Homo sapiens: one gene and its partners. The protein of the gene in region 4 interacts with the protein of the main gene of each other region in a pairwise test. Each region holds a gene or a part of one and is shown on either strand. Other genes may lie near its edges.

Region 1 (4,313 bases), on a different chromosome or scaffold from region 4:
AAGAATGGGCAACCCTTTGTTGAGGACCTGCTGGGTACCAGTGGACACTTGGCTTGGGGGTCACATTTGCCCTTTGAGACAGCCTGCAGGGAGGTGTTAACAATGCACCTTTTTTTTTTTTTTGAGACAGAGTCTTGCTCTGTTGCCCAGGCTGGAGTGCAGTGGCTTGATCTGGGCTCACTGCAACCTCTGCCTCCCAGGTTCGAGCGATTCTCATTCCTCAGCCTCCCGAGGAGCTGGGACTACAGGCATGTGCCACCAAGCCTGGCTAATTTTTCTATTTTTAGTGGAGATGGGGTTTCACTATGTTGGCCAGGCTGGTTTCGAACTCCTGACCTCGAGCGATCCACCCGCCTCCGTCTCCCAAAGTGTTGGGGTTATAGGCATGAGCCACCATACCTGGCTAACACCACACTTTAAAAAGGGAGAAACTAAGGCCCAAGACCCATTCTCTCCACGGATATGAGGTTTGACCCTGGCACGCTGGATTCTGGGGCCTGAGTTTCAGAGGCTCCCTGTCGGCTCCAGGCTGACCCAGCCCAGAACCCCTCCTTCCCTTGGGCAGCACCTGTCCCCTTCCTAAGCTGCAGGCATTTGGCCCGATGTTTGTGTCCAGCTCTGTCCCAGCCCTCATCGGGGGTGGGCGTCTGTGCATGGGACAGCACTTTCTACTTTTGGAGGGATGTCACTTGTAATGCTTGGCATTAGATTGAACACACTTTTGGTTCTGAAGAAATGTTTGAGGAATGGAACTGGGTTATTGCAACCTCCAGACCTGGGAAGGCAGGACAGCTTCAGACCCACTTAGCAGATGGGGAAACCAAGGCCCAGAGTGGGAATAATCTGTCAAGGTCCCAATGAGGCCAGTTGACTCTGGACTAGAACCAGGCCTGTTAGGGCCACGGAGGACCCGACCGTGTCTTGAAGGTCGAGGGAATGACCTCAGCCTGCCACTGAGGGCTAACTGTGGCGTGAGTGTTGGCTCCAGGAGGTGCCAGTGGGAGGGCACTGGAGAGGGTGGGGCTTGGACATGGGACCTAGGGACGGGCGTGCCGGACTGACAAGGGACAGGCAGGGGTGTGAATAATGCGGGCTGGGTGTCCAGCAGGGCGAGGTGGGCAGAGGCCCTTTCTTTGGAGGCCTCGCTCTAGGAGCCGCTAAGGTGTCTGATTTTCCTCCCTTCCTCTCACAAACCTGCTCACACGGCCTCCTGCTGGACCCAGGGCATGCAGAGGGAGAGTGGGCATTGGGGCAGCACGTGTCTTGTAGGGCACGTAGTGTGTGCCAGGCACTGTGCACACAGTGAGGCCTGAGAGATAGGGCTCATGTCCTCGTGGAACTCAGCCTGGGGCCAAGGGGCTGACATGCAAACAGCGCCCCTCATTCTTCTCCATATTCACAAGGTAACTCATTCACGCCTGGCAACAGCTCTACAAGGCTGGCACTATTACTGTTGCTGAAATATACAGAAACAGTCAAAGAGAGGCTAAATAACTCATCCAAGGTCACACAGCCACAAGAGGCAGAACGGGGCCTGAACCCAGGCAGCCTACTCTTGGCCTGTGATCCTCCCAGCTGAGCCACACTCTTTCCCCGGACGAACTGTGCTTGGTAACCACGCTGGGGGCTGTGGGATGGGCTGGGGTATTAAATGCTCAAGAATCTTGTGAGCTGCTTGCTAATTTGAAAATTAAAGTATAACAGTCTATATTTAAATACATTATATTTAAAACAAAGTCACCATTTTCTAATCCTTTAGTGTCTATAACTATTTTTTTTTTTGAGACGGAGTTTTGTTCTTGTTGCCCAGGCTGGAGTGCAATGATGCGATCTCGGCTTTCTGCAACCTCCGCCTTCTGGGTTCCAGCGATTCTCCTGCCTCAGCCTCTCAAGTAGCGGGGATTACAGGCTCCCACCGCCATGCCCAGCTAAATTTTTTTTGCATTTTTAGTAGAGACAGTGTTTCACCATGTTGGCCAGGCTGGTCTCGAACTCCTGACCTCAGGTAATCTGCCCGCCTCGGCCTCCCAAAGTGTATAACTATTTTATCTGTGTGGCAAAAACACCATATACGGGTGTGCTGCAGCCTCTCTTCCCAATGCCACACCCAGTGATATCAGGTTGGTAGTGCAAACAAACATAGCTTCAGTCGCTTGCTTCAAGCTTCTATCTTGAAACCCAAAGAAGGGGAAAAATGTTTTAAAATGCATTTTGAAGTTAAGCTGCCCCATTACAGTGGCTTGAAATTGGCCACAGCGGGGGTGTTTACACCACGGAAATTGGCCAATGCTACAAGTCACAGCTCCTGTTCCCCTGTGTCTCCAAAGAGCCCACTGTTAAACATTTTCCAGAGCACGGCTGTCTGTGAGGGACAGGTCAGGATCTCCAGGGACCTGTAGGTGTGATGGTGTTAGGGGAGGGATGGCAGGCGGGTACTGGCCTGCAGGAGACACTCACCCCAGCAGGGAGATGCACGCGGAATCCTCCGTTCCCAGAGGGATCCGGTGAGACAAGCGTCAAGCCTCAGGAAACGTCCGACCTGGAGAGCCCCTTCTTTCCTGTCCCAGGGCGTATTAAAATCTCTCCTTCTCCCCAGGCTCCTCTCTCAGCCACCTGCCAGCAATGCCTCTCCTTCTCTGAGCACCTCCCCTCCAGACCCTTGGTTTCTTTCTAGCTGGGAGGACTGCATGGCTGCCTCCGCACGGGCCTGGGGGCCTTGAAGACAGGCTCTGAGCTGGCTGATATTGCCCGATCTGGATCTCAGCCTGGGGCCTGGTGCTTAGGAAGGGCGTAGGCTTAGTTGGAGATTCTATCTGCAGCTCTCCTTGTCCTTTCTCACCCACGTCTTTGAGTGTAGCTAGCCTTGAAAGTCAACGTGTTGTTGTCACAAGACAGGATTTTAAAATGGCAGTGACAATGCACGCAGGGAGCTGGGGCTCCATCGGCTGCCCAGGGTCTCCTGGGTGACACATGGCAGAGCCGGACTGAACTCCCAGTGTGCTCCATGTCCCTGTGGCCCTCGCTGTCCCTCGGGAGGGGCTGGGGCAAGCACGGATGAGCCTTCCTATGGCCTTGGTAGGAAGGGGTGAGCCTGGGCAGGTGCCCAGCTTGGTGAGTCAGCCTCTGCAATGGGACGGGGCTGAGCTGAGCTACACAAGCGGGTGTGGGGGTTGGGCCAGCCCTTAGACAGCCACCGCTCACCCTCCAATAGCTGTGGAGTGGGCGAGTGCCACCCAAGGCTGCCTTTCCAATCAAGAGGGGCTCACTGTCATCCTTTTGCCTCCAGGTTACTCTCTGGTGACCCACATCCCGGCTGGTGCCCGAGACATCCAGATTGTAGAGAGGAAGAAGTCCGCTGACGTGCTAGGTGGGTACGCAGTGTCTGGCAGCTGCCTCACTGAGCTTTTGGTTGTGGAGCGTTGTGCGTGGCAGAGAAGGGGCACTTGACCCTGGACCCCTTCCTCCAGGACAGGGATGGACCAGTGCTGTGGGCATGGCTGCAGGAGCCAGAACTTGAGCCAGCTGTGTGGGTGTGGCTGGGGTGCTCACAGGGGAGCCAGCTTTACCCCTGTGCATGGCAGGACCTTGAACTCAGAGCTGCTGGACAATGGGAGGGTGGTGATGTTGGGTGGTGAGCTCCCTGTCACTCGAGAGCCTGGCACAGGCAGAAGCTGGGGGCCGCTGCAGATGAGATCCCTGTGGGGTTCGAGGAGTGAGTCTCAGGAGATGACAAGGTCAAGGTAGCACTGAGAGGAAGTCGGTGCAGAGGTAGGATTCCGACTCAGGTCTGGGGTCTCATGCTGATGTTCTTGCCATTAGTCAGACTCCGCTGGGAGGCTGGGCTGTAGGAGGGGAGTCCTCTAACCTGAGTATTCTGGAGTTGTTTCCATGATGGACAGAGTGGTGAGGCCCCATCTTGGTGGCAGATTTTGAGTGTAGGGAGCCTTGGTGGCAAATTTTGGAAGAGCCCTCTGGGAAGATGGAGTATTGGCCGAGCAGCGTGCCATGTCTGCACCCCTTGGGCCACAGTGGGCAGGTGCTGACACCTGTGAGCTGCTCTGTGCTCGGCCCTTCCCTTTATGGGGCGGGCTTGGGTATAGGGACGCTGTTCTTGGACACAGGTGCAGCCCCAAACCTGACACTACCTGGGTTTACTCCCCCCACTGCCTCCCACTCTTCTTGAGAGCCAGAACTGGTGGGGTGAAGCCCATCTCCTAAGGGGGTGCTGGAAGAGGAGGCTTTGCTGAAGGTCTTCAGGCTGGGACCCACCTTGGGTTCTCCTGTTCCCTCTCCAGAGCCTAAGGGCCAGCCCT
Region 2 (4,313 bases), on a different chromosome or scaffold from region 4:
AGTGCAGTGGTGTGACTACAGCTCACTGCAGCCTTGATCTCTGGGCTCAAGAGATAAGTATCTGGGACTACAGGTGTGGGCCACCATGCCTGGCTGATATTTTTAATTTTTATTTTTTGTAGAGATGAGGTCTCACTATATTGCCCAGGCTGGGCACTTGAGAGCTCCTGCACTCAAGCGATCCTCCTGTCTCAGCCTTTTAAAGTGTTGGGATTACAGGTGTGAGCCACCACACCCGGCCTAAACAGGTTTCTTATGCCTCATAACATATGCTGTTATCTCTGCCTGGAATATTCTAAACCTTCCCTTCCCACCTCCTTCACCTGGCTAACTCCCACTCAACCTTTAGGTTTCAGCTTAGATGTCCCCTCTTTGAGGCGGCCTTCTCTGACCCCTCAGTCTGGGTGAGGAGCCCTCACATCAGGTTTCACAGCCTTGATATGTCCCCCATCAAAGTCCACGTTGTGCACTTGTAATTGCCTAGACTTCCATTGCTTAAGGAGGCAGCTGCTAGCCACGTGAGGCTAAAGTTAATTAAAACTAGGCTGGGTGTGGTGGCTCATGCCTGTAATCCCAGCACTTTAGGAGGCCGAGATGGATGGATCACCTGAGGTCAGGAGTTTGAGACCAGCCTGGCCAACATGGTGAAACCCCATCTCTATTAAAAATACAAACAATTAGCCGGGTATGGTGGCACACACCTGTAGTCCCAGCTACTTGGGAGGCTGAGGCAGGAGAATCGCTTGAACCCGGGAGGTGGAGGTTGCATGAGCCAAGATCATGCCATTGCACTCCAGCCTAGGCAACAGAGCGAAACTCCATCTCAAAAAAAAAAAAAAAAAAGTAAATAAAATGTAAAATTCTCAGTCACACTAGCCACATTTCAAGTCATTATAGCCACATGTGAGGCCGGGTGCGGTGGCTCACACCTGTAATCCGAACACTTTGGGAGGCCGAGGCGGGTGGATCACGAGGTCAGGAGATTGAGACCATCCTGGCCAACATTGTCTCTACTAAAAATACAAAAAATTAGCCAGGTGTGATGGCACACTCCTGTAGTCCCAGCTACTCGGGAGGCTGAAGCAGGAGAATTGCTTGAACCTGAGAGATGGAGGTTGCAGTGAGCCAAGATCACGCCACTGCACTCCAGCCTGGGCGACAGAGCGAGACTCCGTCTCAAAAAAAAAAAAAAAGCTACATGTGGCCTATGGGTGCTACATAATACAGATCTAGAATATTCCCATTGTCACAGAAATTTCTGTTGAATAGTGCTGGCCTAGACTGTGTCAGGAGGCAGAGACCAGGGGAGAAACTTGGAGGTGCTCTGGGCTCCCCCACCCCACCCACTCCCAGTGCATCCAGGTGGACGCACAAGCTTAGTAAAGTCTGCACACCAACTTCACAGGTGCACACTCACCCAGGCCTCTTCCTCCTGCTTCTGACCAGACAGCTTCCTTAAGCCCTTCCCACAGCCAAATTCCAGAGCACCACTGGCACGCAGCTGGACCCCAGGAAGTATCTGCTGGAGTGAAGTAAACGGGGCCCCTGTCCTTGGGGAGCTTATGCCATCATTGAAAGAAGCCAGATTGCATAACTTGTGGGCAGCAAAGGGGCATGGCCTCAGGGACCAGCCTGGGGTCTGCAGGCACTGGGCAAAGAGAGCAGGGACCCTGAGAAGTGAAGGCTCAGGACACTCCCAGTGGGAGGAAGACCTCATGCTGTGCTCTGAAGGACAAGGATAGCAGAGCTGGCCAGGCCGAGGAGGGGCAAGTGCACTGAAGACGTGGGAGGTCGGCGCTGAGGGCTGGTGGCCGGCAGAAGAGAGATCCTGGCCTGGGTCCCAGAGCTGGGGGGTTCCCGGTGGCGGGGGATGGTGGTGACAGAGCCCCAGACAGTCAGCACACCAGCCTGGACTTGAAGGGCTGTGGACAGCAGAGAAGTGATCTGATCACCTCTGTTTTTTGGGAGGCAGGTTCATGGTGAGCTGTTTGTGAGGACTGTGGTAAGGCTAACACTGCCCTCTCATGGCGGAGAAATCATACCCAAAAGACCCCAGCAGGCGCAGTCTATCCTCTGCCACCATACGGCCCAGGGAAGCCCAGGCCTAGCATGTTGTCGTCCTCGTCATAAATGCCATGTCCCCAGCTCTGGCTTCCAGGCGAAGAGCACCCACCTCACTGCAGCCCTGCCAGATGTACCATGCGCCACATACTTCCATGTGATCGCCCTGCAGACAGACAGCATGGCCGTTCAGTTCAGGAAATATTCGCCGAGTGTAGATTGGCTCCAGGCTGCCAAGCTCAAATGTGTGCGGCCATTGTCCTAGCCCACAAGAAGATTACAACGAAAGGCCAGACACAGTGGCTCACACCTGTCATCCCAGCACTTTGGGAGGCTGAGGGCAGGAGGATCACTTGGGTCCAAGAGTTCTAGACCAGCCTGGGCATCATAGCAAGACCCTGTCTCTTAAAAAGAAAAAACAAACAAACAAAAAAACAGTTACTCAGGAGGCTGAGGCAGGAGAATGGCGTGAACCCAGGAGGCGGAGCTTGCAGTGAGCTGAGATCGTGCCACTGCACTCCAGCATGCATGATAGAGCGAGACTCTGTCTCAAAAAAAAAAACAAACAAACAAACAAAAAACAAAGCACAAACCCTGGTTCATGACCAGTGCCATAGGGGACTAGGGGAATTCAGAGTGAGAGAGCCCCAGCTGGGAGGCAGAGCTGGAGGCTTTCCAACAAGGAGGATCTGAGGTCACCTTGAAGGCTAGGCAGTAGTTTGAAGGGTTAGGGGCAGAGAGAAGGTACCTGTGACCCTCACTGACTCCTCATGGGACCAGGCCCCCGACCCCTCACCCTCCTGGATTGGCAACTCCAGGTAGGAAGGCTCACAGTGGGAGGGAGGTGGGGGGTGGGCAGACCAACACCACAAGAGAGTGCATCCAGGCCCCGGAGCTGCTCAGTAGACACTACCATGTGTAGCTGGTGTTCTGTCAGTGCCAGCCACGGGCCTGCTATGAGCAAGAAGGCAAGACCTGCCCTCCAGAGGCTCACAGGGGCTCCAGGCCCCTGTGGATCATGCACTCGAGTTGGGGAAACTGCAGACATTCTGGAAGGCCCTTCTGAAGGCAGGCCAGCCCCCAGCCTGTCCCCTTGGTGTGTTTCTGGGTCTTTTCAGTGCTGCCTTGCTGAGTGCTTGCAGGTTTGGATTGTCTTTTTGCATTGACTGAAGCCAAAAGCAGCTTTAGGTAGTTCATCTAAAGGTAGAAATGAGTAGATAGACACAACTCCCAATACATGCCTAAGCCAAAGAGAAATGCATTTGACTGACTCGCAGTCATGTATCTCCCAGACACAATTTGTGTGGATCATTCTGAGTCAGTAAGTGTAGATTAACCTGAGGGTAGGGGTCATTGGAGGGGCCAGAGGGAAACCAAGGGTGGCAGGTTCCCACCAGAGCCCTGCCTTCTGGGATTGATCTGGGTGGGGAAAATTAATGGTGTAGGTGCCAAACACAGGGGCTAAGCTCCCTCTACCATCCACAGGCCTTGGACGATGCCAACAAGGGTATCATCAGAGAACTGAGGAAAACCAACTACGTGGAGAATCTCAAAGAAAAAAGCGAGGGAGGTGAGTTCCTGAAACTCTGAAAAGGCAACTTCAGCATTCTCCCTCTGCTTTCTTTTCCTCTAGTCCGAGACACATGCGACAGCAGCTCCCCAATCTGGGGGCTTGGCACTGCCCATCGTGCATTCTAATTTCAGTGCCACCAGCAGCCCTAGCCTATCTCTGGGGCAGTAGAGGGTGAGGATTCAGCCCACCATGGGCTGGACTGTCTGGCCCCAGAGCGCACTCATTTCTCTCTTCAATTGATTCATCAAGTATATGGTGAGCACTTGTCATGTACCTGGAAGGTGTTAGATTCTGGGGAGAGAGGCCCATCCCTGCCCTGGAGGAGCCCATGGCCCTTTGGGCAAGGCTGACCAGTGGAGTTGTCAGCTGCTGGGATCCTGCACACAGGTGCTACACCGAGGTGGAGGTGTGCTGCCATGAGGGTGCATGCAACGGGGCGTGGGCTCCTCTGGGGAGGCAGAGGAGGCTTCGACGAGGAAAAATCTTCTACCTCCAACTCCAAAAGATGCCCAGGAGTTTTCCAGGAGAGAAGTGGGAGAAGAAAGGCATTTTTCCAGCAGGGAACAGCAGGGCCAGAGGCACAGAGACAGAATAACAGTAGCTACACTTTGGGGGCTCTTACTGTGTGCTAGGCACTGGGTTAAGCACCAGACAGGAGTGATCTTGTTGGGTCTTTACC
Region 3 (4,313 bases), on a different chromosome or scaffold from region 4:
AGAGAAGGGTTACAGAGGTATGCCAGTTGCAGAACTGACATGAATGCTTAAGTTTTATTTATTTTCTTGAAATGCTTAAGTATTTCTCCATGTTAAGTATATGAAATGATATAATGAAATGATACAATTTCTCCAGCCATGTTCTGTGTTTCACGTCTGATGTTTTCTTGTCTGGATAATAAAATGTCTTTTCTTCTCATTTTACCCTATATAGTCTGTATTCACTAGAATGGCAGTTATGAAAGCCTTGAATAAGATAAAGGAAGAGGATTTCCTTAAGTAAGTAGAAGTTTAGAAACAAAGAAGCATCGTGAAATTTTAGAATAAAGGGAATGTTAGAGATAAGCTGGATTATCTCTGAAACAAGATGATGTATTTCAGGGGCCAGGATTGTGTCTTAGTCATTGTTATCTCTCCAACCCATGGTGCAGTACCTGGCATATGTGGTGTTCAGTAAATGTTTGTCAAATTAATATCAAGTCTAACGTCTTTTTTTTTTAAAAAATACTTATTTATTTATTTATTTTTTTGAGACAGAGTTTCACTTTTGTTGCCCAGGCTGGAGTGCAGTGGAGCAGTCTCGGCTCACTGCAACCTCTGCCTCTCGGGTTCTAGTGATTCTCCTGCCTCAGCCTCCCAAGTAGCTGGGATTATAGGCATGCACCACCACTGCCCGGCTAATTTTTTGTATTTTTAGTAGAGACAGGGTTTCGCCACGTTGGCCAGGCTGGTCTTGAACTCCTGACCTCAGGTGATCCACCCGCCTCGGCCTCCCAAAGTGCTGGGATTACAGGCGTGAGCCACCGTGCCCGGCCGAATCAAGTTTAACTTCTTGATCTTTTAGAAGAGGGTAGTGTGTCCAAAGAAGGAGTTGACTTGCCTAAGCTAGTAATAGAGTAGACCTGGAGCCAGATGTCCTGAAATTCTAGCCCAGTGCTATGCCTATTACATCCTTAGTCCTGTATTTCCTAGTATCGTTCATCTCCAGAAAAGGGAGAGGAAGGCTCATGAGTTTCCTCACTTGTTAAAATATGCTAAAATAAAATAAATGCAATAAACCTTACATTTTAATTCTTGGTACATTCATTTTATTAAATAAAATATTACTGTAAGTTTTCTTTCCAGAAGATCCTTCAATACATTTCAAACGATGATGTGATAAGGGGGGTAGAGTCAGCAGTAAACTGCACATGACCATGGACAGCAAAATGGTTAAAGAGCCTGAAGGGGCTTCCACTTCCTATGTATGGATTTTTCCCTCAAATCTTGAGGCTATTGGAAAGTATTAGGTTGGTGCAAAAGTAATTGCAGTTTTTGCCTCGGAAGATAAGTCCTCCCGAAGGTGAAAGGTAGCAGCAGAGCCCTTATTTACTTAGTGCCACTCTCATATGTTAAAATTGTTACTCCACAGGCCTGCAAGACCTGTATTGTTGCGAAACTAAAAGTTAGAGAGAGACTTGGGCTCTGTGTATGTCTCAGACAATGCTGATTCATCTAAGTTTTGTGATTCAATATTATGTCTGGAAAATAGCTATAAAATTTATTTTGTTTTGCAGGCAGTTTCCTTGTCCTCCAAACTCACCAAAGGCTGTATGCGCTGTTCTTGAAATTGAATGTGCTCATGGTGCTGTTTTTGTGGCTGGTAAAATATTTAGTCTAGAATATACATACACTGTGAACGTACTCTCCTTTCTAAAAACTCAGCTGACTCCTGTTCTATTTTATTCTTATTGTTGTTATTAGATTCTAATAAGTTTACTCTCTTGAGAAGTAGAATCAATAGCCAAACTTATTTTAGGTTTTGTGGGCATTCTAAAGGATCACTTAGGAGATCAGTTATTTTAAATGCCATGCCAAAGGGAAATGACACTTCCTAGGTTTTAATAGTTCTCATCAGAGATGGCCAAGTAGAAATATGGGTAGATGCAGAGACCCAAAACTGGTTTGGAGAAAAACAGCAGGACAGAGGCTATTTTATAACATAAAAGCAAACTTGAAAAAATAACTTATTATCTCCAAAATGACTAAACACTTGGCTTCCACTGGAAAGAAATTGTTCATTGACTTTCCTAAAAGGTAATCTGGCAGACAAATTTTTGTTTGAAAGTTACAACTGTTTTATAGTAATAGCTGAAGTGAAATTGCTCTTCAGCCTTGACTATAATATCCTATCCTAGGGCAATGAAAGCTACCTGCCTTACTGTAGCTTTACTCATCAGGTGTAAAAGCAAGTTTGGTTGCGTTTTTTTTTTTTTTTTTTTATCCTTGGTATATTCATAATATTATATAACTTGTTTAGTCAGCCAATCAAATTAAATATATTGAGCATTCCTTTCAAACTCATTTGATGTACCATTCATATCATATATTTACCCATCTATTTTATTGTTACTTTAAACCTTTTTATTTAATTATCTACATGTATATGTCCCAGGTCTCCAAATTGGATTGTTAGTTAGGTAAAGGATAGGCCTTGTTTTATATCGTAGCACTTAGGATATTGGCCCTTATAGTTGTTGCTTCTCTTTTTATCCTACCATGTTAATTACTCCATTCCATCCAGGCTATCTGATTATTTCTTTCTCAGGGAGATATAATAAATACTCCAGGAATCTACCACAAACTCCTTGGATAATTGATGGAGAAAGGAAGCTGGAATCTTCAGTGGAAGAATTAATTTCAGATCATCTGTTGGCAGTATTTAAAGCAGAGAGTAAGTGTTACGATCTTCATACTTTTCTTTCTTTTTTTTTTTTTTTTTGAGATAGGGGCTTGCTTTGTCAACTAGGCTAGATTGCAGTAGCACGATCACAGCTTATGGCAGCCTTGACTTCCTGGGCTCAAACGATCTGCCCACCTTGGCCTCCTAAAGTCCTGGGATTATAGGCATGAGCCACCCCACCTGACCTAATCTTCATATTTTATTCTCTCTCTCTTTTTTTTTTTTTTTTTTTTGAGAGAGCCTGTCACCCAGGCTGGAGTGCAGCCTCAATCTCCCAGGCTCAAGCAACCCTCCCATTTCAGTCTCCTGAGTAGCTGGGACCACAGGTATGCACCACCATGCTCGGTTATTTTTTAACATATTTTTAGAGATTGGGGGGTCTCACTATGTTGCCCAGGCTGGTCTCGAACTCCTGGGCTCAAGTGATCCTCCTGCCTGGGCTTCCCAAAGTGCTGGGATTATAGGCATGAGCCACTGCACTTGGCCATATATTTAATACACTGACATTCATGAATAGATTTCTTGGGGGTGGCAGGAAAGATTTCTATATTTTGTTAATCACTACCAAGTCTGGGCCTCTTGGCCATAGGCTTCCTGTGCCTATGGCATCATGTTCTGGGTGCCGCTGGCCTGGGCTGGATTTCAGCCAAGGCACTCGAGAATATCTGCCTGTCCTCTCTCAAGATGATTGCTCTGCCGAGTGCAGTGGTGCGCACCTGCAATCCCAGCACTCTGGGTGGCTGAGGCGGGCGAATCACTTGCAGCCAGGAATTCAAGACCAGCCTGGGCAACATGGTGAGACCCTGTGTCTACTAAAAATACAAAAATCAGCTGGGCATGGTGGTGCGCACCAATAGTCCCAGCTACTTGGAAGGCTGAGGCACGAATCGCTTGAACCCAGGAGGCAGAGGTTGCAGTGTGCTGAGCTCGCACTACTGCACTCCAGCCTGGACGAAAGAGTGAGACTCTGCCTAAAAAAATAAAAAATAAATTTGAAAAATGACTGTTCTCTCCTGGGGAAATTCAAAACAACTGAAACTACTTTAAATGAATGCACCTAAGCCCTGACCTTGGTACACCTCAGCCTTGGCCTCTTTGGGGGAATATGAGGAAATTAAAACACATCTTCCACATCCAGTGCTTCTTCAAGAGTAATCACTGGCAAGTGTTTGGCTTCTCTCTTAACCTGTAAAGTGTCCTGGAATAAAGTTCAGGCCTAGAGAAAGTAAATCAACAGCAGCCATTTTACAAAGACTGAATGGCAGCTGTAATGTTTTTGAATTTAGGTATTAACGAGCCCAGGTTCATGGGATGAGTCAGGTTCCATCAGGTTTATGTTTTCCTTGTCTCAACAGGCCTGTCAGGTCAAAGGCAGCATAATGTCTTGTGATTTCAATTGCAGGAAATGGTGTTACACGTCAGGAAAAACTGCAGGGCATGGATGATATTACTCTTTGGAATGAGGCTCCTAGTATAATTAGAAAACCTTTTTTTTTTGAGACAGAGTCTTACTTTGTTGCCCAGGCTCTAGTGTAGTAGTGTGATCACGGCTCACTGCAGCCTTTAGCTCCTGGGCTTAAGCAATCCTCCT
Region 4 (5,027 bases):
AGGCTGCCCTGGACTTAGACCAGTGTCTGAGGTGGTAACAGCGGCCGCAGGCCAGGGTTGGCCTAGACCTGGGATTTGTGGGGAAAGCTGCTGGTGTGACCAGCTGAGCACCCAGCCAGGAGACCTGCAGCCCTGCGCCTTCCAGAAGCAGGTCCCAAATAAAGCCAGTGCCCACCTGCTCTCATGCGTCTGAGGACTCTGTGCTCGGAGGGAGCTGCGTTCCCGGAACCCTGCACTGGGCTGGGGGGAAGGGAGGAAAGGGGATTGTGGGAGGAGTCCTGGGGCATGTGGTCCTGGATGAGGTCCATGGCTGGGGCCTTGGGGTACAAAGGATGGTGCCCCAAGTGTGGGGGCAGTTGAGCGGGCAGCTGTACTAGAGTCTGGGGGTGGGAGTGGCGGGTGTGTGCAGGCAGTGATGTCCAGGAGGGCGCTGCAGCCCCGCCCCCTCCGCAGCCTGTCCCAGGCCTCCCTCCTCTCTGTTCTGCCATGCGGCCTCCTTTCAGTCCCTCCTGCTGGCCAGGTCTCTGCCTGCCCCAAGGCCTTTGCACAGAGAGTCCCCAGCCCAGGACAGTTTCCCGCCTTTCTTTAACTCCTTTTCCTTGGGATGTCTCAGCATAAGAATCACTTCCTCTAGGAAGCCTCTTCTGACACAAACCCCTCCACTGCCGTCACAGCAAATACTCCTTTCATGGTCTAAGGTGCTACCTTTTCATAGCAGTGCAGTTTTTTTTTCTTTTTTTTGAGACAGAGTCTCATTTTGTCACCCAGGCTGGAGTGCTGTGGCGCTTGGTTCACTACAACCTCTGCTTCTGGGTTGAAATGATTCTCCTGTCTCAGCCTCCCAAGTAGCTGGGATTACAGGTGACTGCCACCTCGCCCAGCTAGTTATTGTATTTTTAATAGAGACGGGGTTTCACCATGTTGGCCAGGCTGGTCTTGAACTCCTGACCTCAAGTGATCCGCCCTCTTTGGCTCCCCAAAGTGTTGGTATCACAGGCATGAGCCACCACACCCTTCCAGCAGTTCAGTTTTAATTGTTCATTTGTTTGTGGAATCATTTCAGTGTTTGGCTCTGCCCACTTGGATGTAAGCTCCAGGAGCTCTGGGAGACCAAGTACACCATCTGTTTTGCCCATTGCTGGAACTCCGTGGTTGGGCACCTGCCTGGCACCTAGTGGGTTCTCCTTAATTCATCTTTTAAATGGATGGGTGGATGGATGGATGGGAGGATGGGTGGGTGGGTGGACAGATGGATAGATGAGAGGATGGTTGGATGGATGGGAGGATGGTGGGTGGGTGGATGGATGGATGGATGGATGGGAGGGAGGGGGGTGGGTGGGTGGGTGGATGGATGGGAGGGAGGATGGATGGATGGATGGGAGGGAGGGAGGATAGATGGATGGATGGAAGGATGGTGGGTGGATGGATGGGAGGGTGTGTAGGTGGGTGGATGGATGGATGGATGAGAGGGTAGGGGGGTGGATAGATGGATAGATGGGAGGGTGGGTGGGTGGATGGACAGACAGATGGGCGGGCGGGCAGATGGATGGACGGATGGATGGATGGATGGATGGATGGATGGATGGATGGATGGGAGGGTGGATGGATGGATGGATGGAGGGTGGATGGATGGATGCCAGGGAGGGAGGATGAGTGGGTGGGTGAATGGATGGATGGATGGGAGGATGCTGGGTGGGTGGATGGATGGATGGATGAATGGTTGGGAGGGTGGGTGGATGGATGGACGGACAGTCGGCCGGCCGGATGGATGGATGGGAGGATGGGTGGATGGATGTATAGATGGATTGATGGACGGGTAGGCAGGTGGATGGATGGATGGATGGATGGACGGACAGGTGGGTGGGTGGATAGATGGATGGGTGGATGGAGTATGAAGGAAAGATGTTCTGGGGTGAAGACTGGTTCTGGGCGTTTTGTAACCAAGGGGGCGGCCTGAGGGGGCGTGCACGCCCGCGGGAGTTAAGGATGGGCGCCCGCGGGCGTGACGGGGCCGCGGGGCGTGGGCGCCGCTCCCCGGGGCTGGAGCCGGCAGAGGGCGCTCCGGGCTCGCTGGACACCCGCGCTTCGGCCTCTGCTGCGCGCCGCGAGTGGGAGGGGGGACTTTAGAAGCGGGGAGAGCAGGAGACTTTTGGGGAGCAGGCCCCAGGGGCGCCGCCCCGCCCCCAGGCCCCACATACCCCTCCCCTCCGGGTAGCCCCCTCTGTGGCTGCGCCCGCGCCCCTCGCCCCGGCGGGCAGTCCTCAGGCCCCGCGCCCGGCCGGCGGGGGTGGGGGCGGCGGGGAGCGGGCACGTGGCTCGGGGTCCGGCCGGCCCGCCCCCCGGCGCCGGCCAGTCCCCGCGGTGTCCGCGGCCGCGGGGGCAGCGGGAGAGAGGGCGGGGCGGCGCGGGCAGCGCGGGGAGGGGGTCGCGCGGGGGCGGGCCGCAGCTGGGCGGGGGTCGGCGGGCTTCCGGGCGGCGGCGGCGGGCGCGGCGCGATGTGCGAGCGGGCGGCGCGCCTGTGCAGGGCCGGCGCGCACAGGCTGCTCCGGGAGCCGCCGCAGCAGGGCCGGGCGCTGGGCGGGCTGCTGCGCTGGGTGGGCGCCAGGATGGGCGAGCCCCGGGAGTCGCTGGCCCCCGCCGCCCCCGCGGACCCCGGCCCAGCCTCGCCGCGCGGGGGCACCGCCGTCATCCTGGACGTGAGTACGCGCCGGCCGGGACCCCCGCCGTGGCCTCCGCTGGGACCCGGAGCCCCCTCCGCCCCTCGGGCGGACCCCGACGCCGCGACCCGCGAGGCCCTCCCTACCCGGGCAGGAGACCCCCGGCCCCTCCGCGTGCCGGAGCGGGAGCCCCCAGCCCCGCCACGTCCAGGCCGGTCTCCAGCCCAGTCCTCTCCCTGGACCGGGAGACCCCCCTCCTCCGCCCCTCCACCGGCGCTTCTCGGAGTCCCTGCCTGCCCACAGTGGGGAGCCGTGAGCCCCCGGACCCGGCCACTGTCCCCCTAGTTTTGTCCAAGCCAAACCCCCACCCTTTACCCCGCGGGACCGGAGCCCCTCGCCGCGTCCAGCCGCCTCCTCCTCTCCATCCCGGATCCTGTCCGGAGCGATACTTTTCTGAGACCCCTAACAACCCCTACCTCTAGCCCACCTCTCTTCGCCCTAGACCCTGAGCCCCCGTTCATCTCACGCTCAAAGACCCTTTGCCCCAGCTACTGCCACTTTAAAAGTGAAGCCCCCTCCCCACCTTCTGTCTTCTCGTCTCCTTTCCATTGAGCCAGAGCCATCGCCCATCAGCCCTGAGCTGGTACCCCTCTGGTCTTCCCCACCCCGCCCCCTTCCATTCCAAGTCCTCTGTTCCCTTCCCCACACCCCTCTACCCTACAGAGAGCTGGGTCCTCTTCATGGACCAGACTCACCCCTCACCCCTCCTAACTCCCCTGGGACCCAAATCACCCATCTCTGGGAAGCCCACCTCACCCTCCCACCCGCCCCACCCGGGAGGGAGGAATCTTCAGGGGGCGGCTCGGAGGAGGAGGACTTCTCCCAGCAGAGAGTGCTAGGAGGAGGTGGAGGAGGCTTCTGGGGATGTTGACTGCGTGTTTCAGCGAGGGTCCTGCTGGGGTGGGGCTGGGGGCTGCCTCTGCCTGTGTGGTGGATTTCTGGGAGAGTGGTGGGTGTGTGTGAATGTGCACACGCGTGTATCGCGGATCCCTGTGAGTCGGGGGATTCCCTCCCTTCCTCTCTCCTCTTCCCTGCTCCTGGAACCCTTGGCCGGGGTCTGGGCTGGGAGGGCCGGCCAGAGCAGGGGGAGCTCTAGAGTGCCACACTCGCAGGCACACATTCACACACTCACGCACTCGCTTACGCACGCACACACAGCCAGAGACACACCCATGCAGCCAAACCATCCCCTCCTCAGGACCCCCGCAGAGCTCCCACTGAAAGTCCTGGGCAGAGCCCTGCAGCCCCAAGCTGCCCTGCATGGAAGCCCTGCCCAGTCAGGGTGGGGGCTCTGAGGTTCCATCTCCTCACCTGCCAAAAGGAGTGATGAGCGGGGGGTGGGGCGGGAGGTGCTCATGCAGACTCCTGGAGCTGGCTGACATTACCAGGTGTCAGCCCTGCCATGTCACTCATGTGTTCAGCATTCCTGCCCAGAGCCGGCACCTACCTGGTGCCTGGCCTCAAGGGGGATCTGGGACACCCAGATAGGGACCCCAGTTTTGAGGAGCCTTGCCCAGTCAGGAACGGGGCTGCGGGGTGCCCAGGCTGGATCTTTGAGGAGGGCTTGGGGATCTGAGGTTCAGCCAGGAGGAGGGGTGATGTTTGAGAGGCCCTCCCATAGCTGTGCTTCAGTCTCACCGCCCAGGTGCCTAGAAATGACCAAGGGTGCCCCCTTTCTCGTTGCCTGGAGGGATGGGGGGCGAGGGCATCTGTCCTTTACCCCAAGGCGAGGACAGAGGGTGGAAGGGTCAGAGTGAGTATTACCTCCTCCTCCTCCATGGCTGACCTGGCCCCAGCAGCCCTCCCTGGTGTCGGGAAATGTGTACATGTTGCTGCCTCTCCCTGGGTCTCAGTACCCTCCTTGTTAAAACAAGCCACTGAGATTGGGGTGGGGGCCACCGCAGAAGCTGGGATCCTTCTCAGGCTTTAAAGTGCTGGTGGGCAGGGCGCCGTGGCTCACGCCTGTAATCCCAGCACTTTGGGAGGCCGAGGCGGGTGGATCACCTGAGGTCAGGGGTTCGAGACCAGCTTGACCAACAAGGTGAAACCTCGTCTCTACTAAAAAATACAAAAATTAGCCAGTTGTGATGGCGGGCGTCTGTAGTCCCAGCTACTCGGAAGGCTGATACAGGAGAATTGCTTGAACCCGGGAGGCAGAAGTTGCAGTGAGCCAAGATCGCGCCACTGCACTCCAGCCTGGGTGACAGAGCGAGACCCCATCTCAAAAAAAAAAAAAATAGTGCTGGTGAATCAGTCCCCGTGGGAACTGGTTACAGTGAAAGGTCTGACTCCACTACAGTGCAGAGTAGG
Region 5 (4,313 bases), on a different chromosome or scaffold from region 4:
CGAGATCATGCCATTGCACTCCAGCCTGGGCAACTCTGTCTCAAAATAAATAAATAAATAAATAAATAAATAAATAAATAAATAAAAAATAAAACACAGTCTAGGCATGGTGGCTCATGCCTTGTAATACCAGCACTTTGGGAGGCCAAGGCTGGAGGATCACTTGAGCCCAAGAGTTTGAGACCAGCCTGCCAACATAGTGAAACTTTGACTCTACAACAAATACAGAAGATTTGCCAAATGTGGTGGCACAGGATTGTAGTCCCAGCTACTTGCCAGGCTGAGGTGGGAGGATCACCTGAACTGGGGAGGTCGAGGCTGCAGTGAGTCATGTTCGTGCCACTGCACTCCCGTCCGGGTGACAAAGCAAGGCCTTGTCTGAAAAAATAATTATAAAAATTAAAAGGCTGGGCGTGATGGCTCACGTCTGTAATCCTAGTACTTTGGGAGGCCAAGGCAGGTGGATCACTTGAGCTCAGAAGTTCATGACCAGCCTGGGCAACATGATGAAACCCTGTCTCTACCAAAAATACAAAAACGTACCCAGGCGTCGTGGCATGCATCTGTGGTCCCAGCAACTGAGGACGCTGAGGAGGAAGGATCACTTGAGCTCAAGGGGCGGAGGTTGCAGTGAGCCAAGATCGAGCCACTGCACTCCAGCCTGAGTGACAGGGTGAGACCCCATCTCAAAAAACAAAACAAAACAAAACTGGGCTGGGTGCAGTGGCTCTTGCCTGTAATCTCAGCACTTTGGGAGGCCGAGGAAGGAGGATGGCTTGGGCCCAGGAATTCGCGACCAGCCTGAGCCACATAGCGAGACCCTGCCTCTATAATTTTTTTTTTTTTTTGAGACAGAGTCTCGCACTGTCGCCCAGTATGGAGTGCAGTGGCACGATCTTGGCTCACTGCAAGCTCCGCCTCCCGGGTTCTCGCCATTCTTCTGCCTCAGCCTCCTGAGTAGCTGGGACTACAGGCGCCTGCCACCATGCCCGGCTAATTTTTTGTATTTTTAGTAGAGACGGGGTTTTACCGTGTTAGCCAGGATGGTCTCGATGTCCTGACCTCGTGATCCACCCGCCTTGGCCTCCCAAAGTGCTGGGATTACAGGCGGGAGCCACCGCGCCCAGCCTAAAACATTTTTTAAAAGAAAAAAATGGCCAGAAGATAGCTGGGTGAGGTGGCTCACGTCTGTAATCCCAGCACTTTCGGAGGCCGAGGCAGGTGGATCACCTGAAGTCAGGCGTTTGAGACCAGCCTGGTCAACGTGGTGAAACCCTGTCTCTACCCAAAATACAAAAATTAGCCGGGTGTAGTGGCACATGCCTGTAATCCCAGCTACTTGGGAGGCTGAGGCAGGAGAATTGCTTGAACCTAGGAGATGGAAGTTGCAGTGAGCCGAGATCGTGCCACTACACTTCAGCCTGGGCGACAGAGCGAGACTCCGTTTCAAAAAAAAAAAAAAAAGAAAAGAAAACAAAAACAAAAATTAGCCAGGCGTGGTGGTGGGCACCTGTAATCCCAGCTACTCGGGAGGTTGAGGCAGGAGAATGGCGTGAACCCAGGAGGAGGAGGTTGCAGTGAGCCGAGATTGCACCACAGCACTCCAGCCTGGGTGTCAGAGCAAGACTCCGTCTAAAAAAAAAAAAACGAAAGAAAGAAAAATTTAAAAATATTTTTTTAGAACCCTGAGCCGGTGTAAGATCGCCAAGGTGGTCGATATAGACAGAGAGAAGACTCCGGTGCTCTCTCTACAAAAACAACACAGAAGGGGTGGCCAGGGAGGTGGGTAGAAAACGGGAGAGGGGAGTCCTGGAAGCCACAGTGTGGGAGAAGGAAGGGAGGAAGGGCTAGGTGTGTGTCGGGGTAGGGTGTTGAGGCTCCTGCTTTCGCTCCCCTCCTTGCGGCAGGCCCTGGAGCACCTAGACCACCGGCTGAGGGAGAAGGTGAAGCAGCAGAACGCCCTGCGGCACCAGGTGGTGTTGCGGCAGAGGCGGCTGGAGGAGCTCCAGCTGCAGCACAGCCTGCGCCTTCTGGAGATGGCGGAGGCGCAAAACAGACACACGGAGGTGGCCAAGGTAGGGGCGGGTGAGGCCTGCAGGGCAGAGGGTCGTGTGGGAGGGATTGAGTGCGGAGGGCCCTCAGCCCAGCCCTGCTGCTCTCCAGACCATGCGGAACCTGGAGAACCGCCTGGAGAAGGCCCAGATGAAGGCGCAGGAGGCCGAGCACATTACCAGCGTGTACCTGCAGCTCAAGGCCTATCTAATGGTAGGGACTAGGAGGGCTCGGGTGAGATGACAAACAGGGAGGGCGGGCTTGGCTAGGGACAGCAGTCACAGACCTGCACCATCTCCGCTACCCCTCCCCACCACGCCCCAGGACGAGAGCCTCAACTTGGAGAACCGGCTGGACTCCATGGAGGCTGAGGTGGTGAGGACCAAACATGAGCTGGAGGCACTGCACGTGGTGAACCAAGAGGCCCTCAATGCCCGGGACATTGCCAAGGTGCCACCCCTCTTGCCCTCGGCCATCCTGCCCAGCTGCCGCGGTCTCCCAGCTTGAGAATCTGACCTCAGCTGTCCCTGAGCTTCCCCTACGCCCCCGCCCCCATCTATCTCCCAGCACCCTGCGGCGGGCAGTGGTAGGTGCCAGCTGGTCTCCCTGCTACCCTGCCCGCCCTCCAGAACCAGCTGCAGTACCTAGAGGAGACCTTGGTTCGAGAGCGCAAGAAGCGGGAACGCTACATAAGTGAGTGCAAGAAGCGCGCCGAGGAGAAGAAACTGGAGAACGAGCGCATGGAGCGCAAGGTGGGCGCACCCAGGGGTGCGCGCCTGTGACTCCAGCCCAGCCCAGCACAAACCAGCCATGCCCTGGCTCTCCCTCATCCTAGGCCTTCTCCCATTTTCTGTTTCTCCTAACCCCGCCCCCTCTCTGACTCCACCCCCACTTGGTGCGAAGACCCCTCCCACATCCCTGACCCCGCCTCTCCTCCCCTCCCCTCCTAAGCGACTGCACCATTTTGGCTCTGACATGGCCTCCAGCCTTCCCCTTACTCAGTGACCCCCCTACCCATCCTTTCCCACCTGACTAGACTGCCTGTCCTGAATCTGACCGTGCCTCTGAGCCAACCGTTGCCTAAGGCCCTGCCCCCTCACTCTTGGCCCCGCCCCTGCACCTGCCCTGAGGCTGCCTCCCATCCAGCCCTCACCAAAGCCCTGTCCTGCCTTTTTGTTTTTTGGGTTGTTGTTGTTGTAGTTGTTGTTTGATAGGTTTTTTTTGCATATATATATATATATATACGTATATACATATATATACATATATGCATATATGCATATATACACACACATATATACACATATACATACATATATACATACATACACACATATATACATATATACATACATACACACATATATACATATATACATATATACACACATATATACATATATACATATATACACACATATATACATATATACACACACATATATGTATATATACATATACACATATGTGTATATACACATATATGTATATATACATATACACATATGTACATACACACATATATACACATATGTACATATACACATATATACATATATACACATATGTACATATACACATATGTACACATACACATATATACACATATGTACATATACACACATATACACATATGTACATATACATATATACACATATGTACATATACACACATATATACACATATGTACACATACACATATGTATATATACACATATGTACATATACACATATGTATATATACATATGTACATATACACATATACACATATGTACATATACACATATATACATATATACACATATGTACATATACACATATACATATATACACATATACACATATATACACATATGTATATATGCACATATGTATATATACACATATATACATATACACATATGTACATATACACATATATACATATATACACATATGTACATATACACATATATACATATATACACATAGGTACATATACACATATATACATATATACACATAGGTATATATACACATATATACATATATACACATAGGTATATATACACATATATACATATATACACATAGGTATATATACACATATATACATATATACACATAGGTATATATACACATATATACATATATACACATAGGTATATATACACATATATACATATATACACATAGGTATATATACACATATATACATATATACACATAGGTATATATACACATATATACATATATACACATAGGTATATATACACATAT
Region 6 (3,904 bases), on a different chromosome or scaffold from region 4:
GCTGGTCTTGAAGTCCTGACCTCAGGTGATCCACCCGCCTCGGCCTCCCAAAGTGCTGGGATTACAGGCATGAGCCACCACATGCGGCCAAATTTGCCTATTTTGGACATTTCATATAAATGGCCCCTGTGATCTGTGGTTCTTTGTGACTAGCTTGTTTCCCGTAGCCTAACTGACTTGTATTTTGGTTGGACCCCTCAGGCTGCTGGTGGAAAAAGATACTGTCAGGGACAGGGGTGGAAGCAGAGAGCCCTCAGGGAGGCGATGACTGCAGTGGTCCTGGTGGGAGATACTGGTGGTTGGGCCAGGGTGGGGGACCAGGAAGAAAGAAGTTGTATGTATTTAATTTGAAGGCAGAGACGATAGCTTCTGTATGTGGATGGTGTCTTAGTAAACAAAACAGTGAAGGTGTTTAACCTGAGCAGCTGGGAGGATGGAGCTGCATCAGCTGAGATGGGGGTGGCTGAGGAAGGAGCAGGGTGGGGGAGGATCAGAAGCCCAGCTCCGAGCAAGTGAGTTTGGGGCGTTTTTCGACAATTGAGAGTACACAGCTGGAGACAGGAGTCTGGAGCCCAGGCGAGAGGTTCAGGCTGAGCCCAGGAAGCTGGGAGCCCCTGTATGCAAACTGTTCAAGCCCATGAGCATGAATGAGACCCCAGGTGAGTACAGACTGAGGAAACCTACCAGGCTGGGGGCTGAACTGGAAAATCCTGCTGTCCTGGTTGGAGAGAGTCTCAGGGAAGTGTCCACCAGTGCCCAGACACCCCAGCTCTCTCCCAGACCTCTCTCTCACTTCCTCAGGATCCAGCAGTGTGGTGCAGTATCCATATAGTTCAGAACCTCGTCAAATGTTGGCCCTTGTCCGAGCGCAGTGGCTCACACCTGTAATCCCAGAACTTTGGGAGGCCGAGGTGGGTGGATTGCTTGAGGTCAGGAGTTTGAGACCAACCTGGCCAACATGGCAAAACCCCATCTCTACTAAAAATACAAAAATTTAGCCAGGCGGGGTGGCGCCTGCCTGTAATCCCAGCTACTTAGGAGGCTGAGGCAGGATAATCGTTTGAAGCCGGAAGACAGAGGTTGCAGTGAGCCGAGATCACGCCACTGCACTCCAGCCTAGGCTACAAAGTGAGACTTTGTCTCAAAAAAAATTAAAAAAATAAAAAAACTGTTGGCTCTTACTGTGAGTGAGATGGGAGCTGCCTGGCCTAGCAAGGGACTTCCAGGACCTGTTTCCACTAAAGCTGGCAGGACTTTTTCTCCTCCGGGTACAAAGACTGGCCTGCCATGGAGCTTCTCTTCCAAGGCATGATCTGACTTAGGTTTTAAAAGGATCATTCTGGGGCCAGGCGCGGTGGCTCACACCTGGAATCCCAGCACTTTGGGAGGCCAAGGCGGGCGGATCGCCTGAGGTCAGGAGTCCGAGACCAGCCTGGCCAACATGGTGAAACCCTGTCTCTTATTAAAAATAGAAAAAGTAGCCGGGTGTGGTGGCGGTCACCTGAAATCCCAGCTACTCGGGAGGCTGAGGCAGGATAATCGCTTGAACCCAGGAGGTGGAAGGTGCAGTGAGCCAAGATTGCACCACTGCACTACAGCCTGGGTGACAGACCAAGACTGTCTTGGGGCTGGGGGGCGGGGGTGAGAAGGATAGTTCTGGGTTCGGGTAGGGGGGAGGTGAGGGAAGGAGTGGGAAAGGGGAAATCAAGGCAGCATCGAGGGTCGCTCACCCCTTACCTGTATTTCTCTCTCTACAGATACATCAGCCCACAGCAAGGCGGGCTCCAGCAGCCCGGAGCCATGGGCCCGGCCCTCCTGCACTCCCCAGGAAGGGGGCTGCCCACGGCCCAAGGAGCGTGAGTCACCACCCCCTTCGGCCCTGCAGCCGGTCCAGCTGCCTCGCCTGGCCTTGTCTCCACCACCCCCAGCCCCTCCACTGCCACCCCCACCGCCACTGGCCCAAGTGGCACCCTCACCCCCTAGCCCCCCACCCCCTCCTCGGCCTCCACCCACGCTCTCGGCCTCAGACCCCTCCCTGGACTTCCTGCGGGCCCAGCAGGAGACTGCCAACGCCATCCGGGAGCTGGCCGGCACCCTTCGACAGGGACTGGCCAAACTGAGCGAGGCCCTCAGCGCTCTGCTGCCCCTTCTGCCAGGAACCCCAGTTGACTCCCTGCCTCCACCTCTGCCCCCACCCCCACCCCCACCGCCACCTCCCAGGCCTGTCCTGCCCCCACCGGCCCCCAAGGTGGAGATCACCCCAGAGCCCGTGTCCGTGGTGGCTGCTGTGGTGGACGGGGCAGTGGTGGCAGCCAGGGGAGTGATCATTGCCCCAAGGAGCGAGGAGGGGGCACCCCGGCCCCCCCCAGCCCCGCTCCCTCCGCACGACTCCCCCCCACACAAGCGGAGAAAAGGTTTCCCTACACGGAAAAGGCGCGGCCGATGGAAATCTCCGTGAAATCTACTATCTATGATCCTGCCTGCAACCCCTCTCCCCAGCTTGGCGCAGTCGAGGGGGGCGATGCTCTCTGCCCATCCCAGCTGCACCCTAGCTCCCTGCTCCAGGGATGTGAGCACCCACTCCCTGTGCTAGTTAGTGCCTGATTCTCTGGGGGGGGCCTCAGTAATGGGCCCCCCCAACCCCTTTCTCTGGTACAGTGCTGTCTGCCTGGCTGCCTCCCTTAACCCTGACTTCTAAGCCATCAATTTCATGTTATTTATTATTGCCCTATGTGGGGTGGGGAGGGAACCTCTCGGGTCTGCACATCTCCCCTTCCCTAACAGTTCCTGTTCTTGACTTGAAGAGAATTGACCCGTGGGGGACTCCCCACCTCCCCAACCCAGACTTTGGAGCGGGTGGGAGTTGTAAGACAAATCAAAATACGGATGACAAAGAGGATATAGCCGTGTATACCCCAGGGAGAGGAGGCGCCGAGTTCTGATGGGAGAGGTACAGGTTGGGTTCTCTGCCTACCATTGCTGTCTCTGACTTCCAGAGCTCAACCCCCTCCTTTCTCCCAGTGGTGACAAGATATCAATAAACTTATTTTTAATACAATTACTTGAGGCTCTGTCTGAGACAGGCCTGGGGGACCAGCACCTACACCTGCCCCGCCCCCTCCACAGGCAGGCAATTGGGAGGCTGGTGGTTTTCCAGCTTTTTTTTTTTTTTAATTCTTAAAGCCATCAAGTCTTGTGTTTACATGAAATCTTATTCCTACTCTTCCTTTAGATACCAGTCTAAATGTCAACTCCAGGAGAAAGTCCTAGATTCCTTCCCCAAGGCTAACGTGGGTTTGCCTCTTAGAGTCTCTTTCAGTGTCCTGTGGTTCTTTTTCTTTTTCTTTTCCTTTCTTTTCTTTTCTTTCCGTTTTTTTGAGATAGGATCTCGTTCTGTTGCCCCAGCTGGAGTGCAGTGGCATGATCACAACTCACTGTAGCCTCGATCTCCCAGGCTGAAGCAATCCTTCTGCCTCAGCCTCCCAAGTAGCTGGGACCACAGGCATGTGCCACCATGCTCAGCTAATTGTTTTATTTTTCTAGAGATGGGGTTTTCTATGATGTCCAGGCTGATCTGGAACTCATGGGCTCAGGCAGTCCTCCCACCTCGGCCTCCCAAAGTGCTAGGATTACAAGCATGAGCCACCACACACAGCTGGGTTCTTTTTCATAGTGACTCTAAATGAACACAGGCCTTTATCTATTTAAGGCACATTTGCCCATAATGTCATGAAGGCAGGAACTGGTTCTTTTACTCTGCTGCAGGGCCAGGTAACAAAGTAGATAATCACCACCACTCTGGACTCAAGACGTGGCTCAAGTACTGGTGCTGCCCTGGCCAACTGTGTAACCATTGGCTTCCAGTGTCCTCATCTGTAGAATGGACATAAAGATGTCAGAGTCT
Region 7 (4,313 bases), on a different chromosome or scaffold from region 4:
GGTGGTGGGGGCTTGTTTCAGAGACCGGGGCCCTGGCTCTATCTCAGGTTTTTGTTTTTTTGTTTTTTTTTTTTTTTTGAGACGGAGTTTCGCTTGTTGCACAGGCTGGAGTGCAATGGTGCGATCTTGGCTCACAGCAACCTCCACCTCCTGGGTTCAAGCCATTCTCCTGCCTCAGCTTCCGGAGTAGCTGGGATTACAGGCATGTGCCACCACACCCGGCTAATTTTGTATTTTTAGTAGAGACGGGGTTTCTCCATGTTGGTCATGCTGGTCTTGAAATCCGGACCTCAGGTGATCTGCTCGCCTCGGCCTCCCAAAGTGTTGGGATTACAGGCGTGAGCCACCGCACCCAGCCTATCTCAAGGTTTGAGGGAGGTGGTGGTCACGAGCGTCAGAGGCCCCCTGGGGGTCTGGCGAGGCTCGGGGGCTTCGTGGAGTAGCTAGTGGGGGCGTCTGTGGAAGTTCTGGTGGGTCTGGGGGCTCTGTGGAGGGTTGGGGGACTGTGGCATTCTAAGGAGGGTCTGGGGGACTGTGGGATTCTAAGGAGGATCTTGGGGACTGTGGGATTCTAAGGAGGGTCTGGGGGACTGTGGGGCTCTATGAAGGGCCCAGCACCCCCCGCCTCGCCCTGCCCGTGGCACCTGGCTCTCCGCCGGTGGGTCGTACTGTCGCAGCTGCCCCAGGAACTCCAGGTGGCGCTTCTCCTCCTCCAGCTGGGCCACGGACTCCTCGCTGGCCCGAAGCCGCCGCTGCGTCTCCTCCAGTTCCTCCCGCAGCCACACGTTCTCCTGGGCCAGCCGCCGGGCCTGCGAGCGCAGCCGCTGCTTCTCTGCCTCCAGTGCACCCACATGTGCCGACAGGGCCAGCAGCACCTGCCCGGGGTGGGGGTCCCAAGTCGAGGTTGGTTCCTGCCCTGCCAGACGGCCCCTGACCCAGCCCAGGCCTCGAGTCAGGCCGTAGCACCCCACTACTATGCACGACACCCCCAGATTCTGCAGAGACTCTGCCAACATGGCCCCAGTGCCCTCAGAGGCTCCCAGGGGCCCCTCTGATTTTACCCCCAAACTTGCCCTAGGACCCACAGTTTACTGAAGAATGCCATCTGGTTCAGGGGTCCCTGTCACACACAAGGACCCCCTAAAGCTGCCAAGGGACTCCATCTCTGACCTGGAGCCTCCCCTTCCCAGGCCTGGTTCCCCTAGGCCTCCCCCTGCCCCGGATGTGCCTCTCTGCCATACTTTTTTCTGTTGTTTTTTGGGACAGTCTCTCTCTGTCACCCAGACTGGAGTGGAATGGCACGATCTCCACTCACTGCAACCTCCGCCTCCCAGGTTCAAGCGATTCTCATGCCTCAGCCTCCTGAGTAGCCGGGATTACAGGAGCCCTCATGCCCAGCTACTTTTTGTATTTTTAGTAGAGATGGGGTTTTCCCATGTTGGCCAGGCTGGTCTTGAACTCCTGACCTCAAGTGATCTGCCCACCTCAGCCTCCCAAAGTGTGCCCCTCTGCAATAGTGAACCCTCTCCCAGTCCCCTACATACCTGTCCCCCTCATGCCTGGCCCTCCCTCCGCCCTCAGCTGACCTTCCCCCAGCTCCCCACCTGGCCCCCTCATACCTGGGCCTCGCCCAGCCCCAGCTCGATGGCCTCCAGCGAGTGGCTCACCACCTGCTGCTTTTCCTCCAGCATCTCCAAGCCGGCTGCCGGGCCCTGTCCCGCCAGGGCCTCCGCCAGGTGCCCAGCCAGGCCATGGTGCTCTGCCCGCAGCGCCTCCAGCCCCTGGACCACTTGCCGCGTCTGCCGCACCAGCTCCTCAGGGCTCAGGCGCTCTGGGCCCAGCCCTGCACTTCCAGGAGCCGCTACCTGCACAGACATTGCTGCTCCTGGGGAGCAATGGTGAGGGGTTTGGGGAATCATTGCCCGGGCCAGTCAGTTGGCCCCCAGCCTCTATTCCCATAATGGCCATCAGGACCCCTAACTTCTCCCCATCCTGGCTCTTCCCTGCTCCACCCATCCTGGCCAGCCCTCTGCCTCCACACCCTCTCCATCCCAGTCTCCACACCCATCCCAGCCAGCTCTCATCTGGAACAGTCTTGTCTACCTTCGTCTGTCCTCCCAACCCAGGGTTCTGCCCTGAGGACAGTTCCCAAATCCTATGTGTAATTAACCAAGAGAAAGCAAACAGCTAGCCTGGGGTCCCCCATCTGCCCTCAGCTCACCTGGCCAGCCTTCCCCACCCCAAGGCCCTTGGATCCCCTGGCCCAGAGCTCCCGGTTGGCCGTGTGACCTGGGACCAGAGGCACCCTCCTCTGCCGGCAGAGTGAGGCGGGGCGTGTGGAGGCGGCAGCCTCTGCGTGAGCTCATTCTTAGGGTGTTTTTGTCGGGAACCAGTCAGACCACTGGGGGTGGGTGGGGTGGGAGGAGAGGGCCGAGGGGCCAGGGCCCCCAGAAGCCCAGGAGGCCTCTAGGTTGGGGGGAATGAGGATGGGGCCATGTGTTGGCTCCCAGGCAACAGATGGACCCTGGGGGAACAGGGGCTCCGCCCTCCTCCATCGGACAAGCTTAGCCAGCCCAGGGCCTGTCGGGACACACGTGTGATAGGTGTGGTCCAGGTATGTCACACTGGCCATGTGACAGCTGAGAGTCTGAAGCCCAGCTCATAGTGGGTGGGGGCCCCCCTCTATGGGACTTCATGTGGTTGTATGTGGGTGACAAGGTCACAGAAACTTAGCTGGTGGTGCCTCTGGGGTCCTCATATACACACAAACACACTCCTCAGAAACACCTCACACACCCGCACCCTCCCTTCTTAAAGACACAATGCAACATACACATTTTCCTCTCCGAAATACAATTTGACACACACACGCACTCTCCCTTCTCTCCAATACAACATGGGGCCAGGTGTAGTGGCTCACGCCTGTAATGCCAGCACTTTGGGAGGCCAAGGTGGGTAAATCACTTGAGGCCAAGAGTTCAAGACCAGCCTGGCCAACAGGGTGAAACCCTGTCTCTACTGGAAAAAAAAAAAAAAAAATAGCAGAGCATGGTGGCGCATGCCTGTAGTCCCAGCTACTTGGGAGGCTGAGGCAGGAGAATTGCTTGAACCCGGGAGGCGGAGGTTGCAGTGAGCCAAGGTCGCACCACTGCAATCCAGCCTGGGCAACAGAGTGAGACTTCATTTAAAAAAAAAAAAAAAAAAGACGGTACACACACACACCCTCCCAGAAATACAGTTACACACACACACACACACACACACTCCCTCATTAGAAACACAATGTAGGCCGGGTGCGGTGGCTCACACCTGTACTCCGAGCACTTTGGGATTTTGGCTGAGGCAGGAGGATCACTTGAGCCCAGGAGTTCAAGACCAGCCTGGGAAACATAGTGAGACCCCATCCCTACAAAAATAAAAATAAAAAAATTAGCTGGGTGTGGTGATGGTGTACCTGGAGGCTGAGGTAGAAGGATTGCTTGAACCCAGGAGGTTGAAGCTGCAGTGAGCCATGATAGTGCCACTGCACTCAGCCTGGGTGAAAGAGTAAGACCCAGTCAAAAAAGAAAGAAAGAAAGGACAGCATAATATACATTCTCCTCTTAGAACACGCACTCACTTTCTCCTATTAAATATACAACTCAGTAAAAACATTTACATTTTCCTTTTAGAAATACAACCTAAGACAACACACTGACTCAGGCACACACATATACTATTCTTTCAAAAACAATCTGTATACACTCCCAACACACAGGTATATTCTCTTAGAAATAAAAACCAAGCCTGGGCGCGGTGGCTCACGCCTGTAATCCCAGCACTTTGGGAGGCCGAGGTGGGTGGATCAGTTGAGGTCAGGAGTTTGAGACTGGCCTGGCCAACATGGTGAAACCCCGGCTCTACTAAAAATACAAAATTAGCCAGGCATGGTGGTATGCGCCTGTAGTCCCCAGCTACTCATGAGGCTGAGGCATGAGAATTGCTTGAACCTGAGAGGCGGAGGTTGCAGTGAGCCAAGATCACGCCACCACACTCCAGCCTGGGTGACAAGAGCAAAACTCCGTGTCAAAAAGTGATAATATTATTTAAAAAAAAGAAAGAAAAGCCAACCCACGCAGAAACTAACTCTGTCTCTCCCACTCCCCAAATCACTCACATTCAGACCATCTCCTTGCACTTGACCGTGACACTCGCTGTCCCCCGAACTCACATGGCTCCCAAGCAGCCAACTCCCCACAATGTGCCCAACGCACCTCCAGATGCACACACTCCCAAGATTCACTATGGATCCCTCGCCAGTTTCCCTACTTCCT

Evidence for each region.
Region 1: the proteins of NECAB2 (region 4) and ADAMTSL2 interact in a two-hybrid assay, tested with the Homo sapiens proteins (one large-scale study listed by IntAct).
Region 2: the proteins of NECAB2 (region 4) and ODAD4 interact in binary tests that used the Homo sapiens proteins (3 or more experiments, as listed by UniProt).
Region 3: the proteins of NECAB2 (region 4) and PUS10 interact in binary tests that used the Homo sapiens proteins (3 or more experiments, as listed by UniProt).
Region 5: the proteins of NECAB2 (region 4) and ODAD3 interact in binary tests that used the Homo sapiens proteins (3 or more experiments, as listed by UniProt).
Region 6: the proteins of NECAB2 (region 4) and MYPOP interact in binary tests that used the Homo sapiens proteins (3 or more experiments, as listed by UniProt).
Region 7: the proteins of NECAB2 (region 4) and KLC3 interact in binary tests that used the Homo sapiens proteins (3 or more experiments, as listed by UniProt).

Annotation. Positions count from the first base shown.
Region 1 is NC_000009.12:133,541,184-133,545,496, forward strand, and holds part of ADAMTSL2 (ADAMTS-like protein 2 precursor), read left to right. Parts: intron 1-3,286; coding exon 3,287-3,367; intron 3,368-4,313.
Region 2 is NC_000017.11:41,957,836-41,962,148, forward strand, and holds part of ODAD4 (outer dynein arm-docking complex subunit 4), read left to right. Parts: intron 1-3,546; coding exon 3,547-3,631; intron 3,632-4,313. UniProt on the Homo sapiens protein: Component of the outer dynein arm-docking complex (ODA-DC) that mediates outer dynein arms (ODA) binding onto the doublet microtubule. Plays an essential role for the assembly of ODA-DC and for the docking of ODA in ciliary axoneme.
Region 3 is NC_000002.12:60,958,792-60,963,104, reverse strand, and holds part of PUS10 (tRNA pseudouridine synthase Pus10), read left to right. Parts: intron 1-214; coding exon 215-279; intron 280-1,556; coding exon 1,557-1,642; intron 1,643-2,587; coding exon 2,588-2,713; intron 2,714-4,313. UniProt on the Homo sapiens protein: Protein with different functions depending on its subcellular location: involved in miRNA processing in the nucleus and acts as a tRNA pseudouridylate synthase in the cytoplasm.
Region 4 is NC_000016.10:83,966,154-83,971,180, forward strand, and holds the start of NECAB2 (N-terminal EF-hand calcium-binding protein 2), read left to right. Parts: upstream 1-2,090; 5' UTR 2,091-2,495; coding exon 2,496-2,696; intron 2,697-5,027. UniProt on the Homo sapiens protein: May act as a signaling scaffold protein that senses intracellular calcium.
Region 5 is NC_000019.10:11,424,635-11,428,947, reverse strand, and holds part of ODAD3 (outer dynein arm-docking complex subunit 3), read left to right. Parts: intron 1-1,907; coding exon 1,908-2,075; intron 2,076-2,163; coding exon 2,164-2,265; intron 2,266-2,376; coding exon 2,377-2,502; intron 2,503-2,681; coding exon 2,682-2,804; intron 2,805-4,313. UniProt on the Homo sapiens protein: Component of the outer dynein arm-docking complex (ODA-DC) that mediates outer dynein arms (ODA) binding onto the doublet microtubule. Involved in mediating assembly of both ODAs and their axonemal docking complex onto ciliary microtubules.
Region 6 is NC_000019.10:45,889,177-45,893,080, reverse strand, and holds the end of MYPOP (myb-related transcription factor, partner of profilin), read left to right. Parts: intron 1-801; coding exon of another isoform or gene 802-911; intron 912-1,757; coding exon 1,758-2,458; 3' UTR 2,459-3,058; downstream 3,059-3,904. UniProt on the Homo sapiens protein: Transcriptional repressor; DNA-binding protein that specifically recognizes the core sequence 5'-YAAC[GT]G-3'. Dimerization with PFN1 reduces its DNA-binding capacity.
Region 7 is NC_000019.10:45,343,106-45,347,418, reverse strand, and holds part of KLC3 (kinesin light chain 3), read right to left. Parts: intron 1,886-4,313; 5' UTR 1,878-1,885; coding exon 1,620-1,877; intron 876-1,619; coding exon 645-875; intron 1-644. UniProt on the Homo sapiens protein: Kinesin is a microtubule-associated force-producing protein that may play a role in organelle transport. Plays a role during spermiogenesis in the development of the sperm tail midpiece and in the normal function of spermatozoa.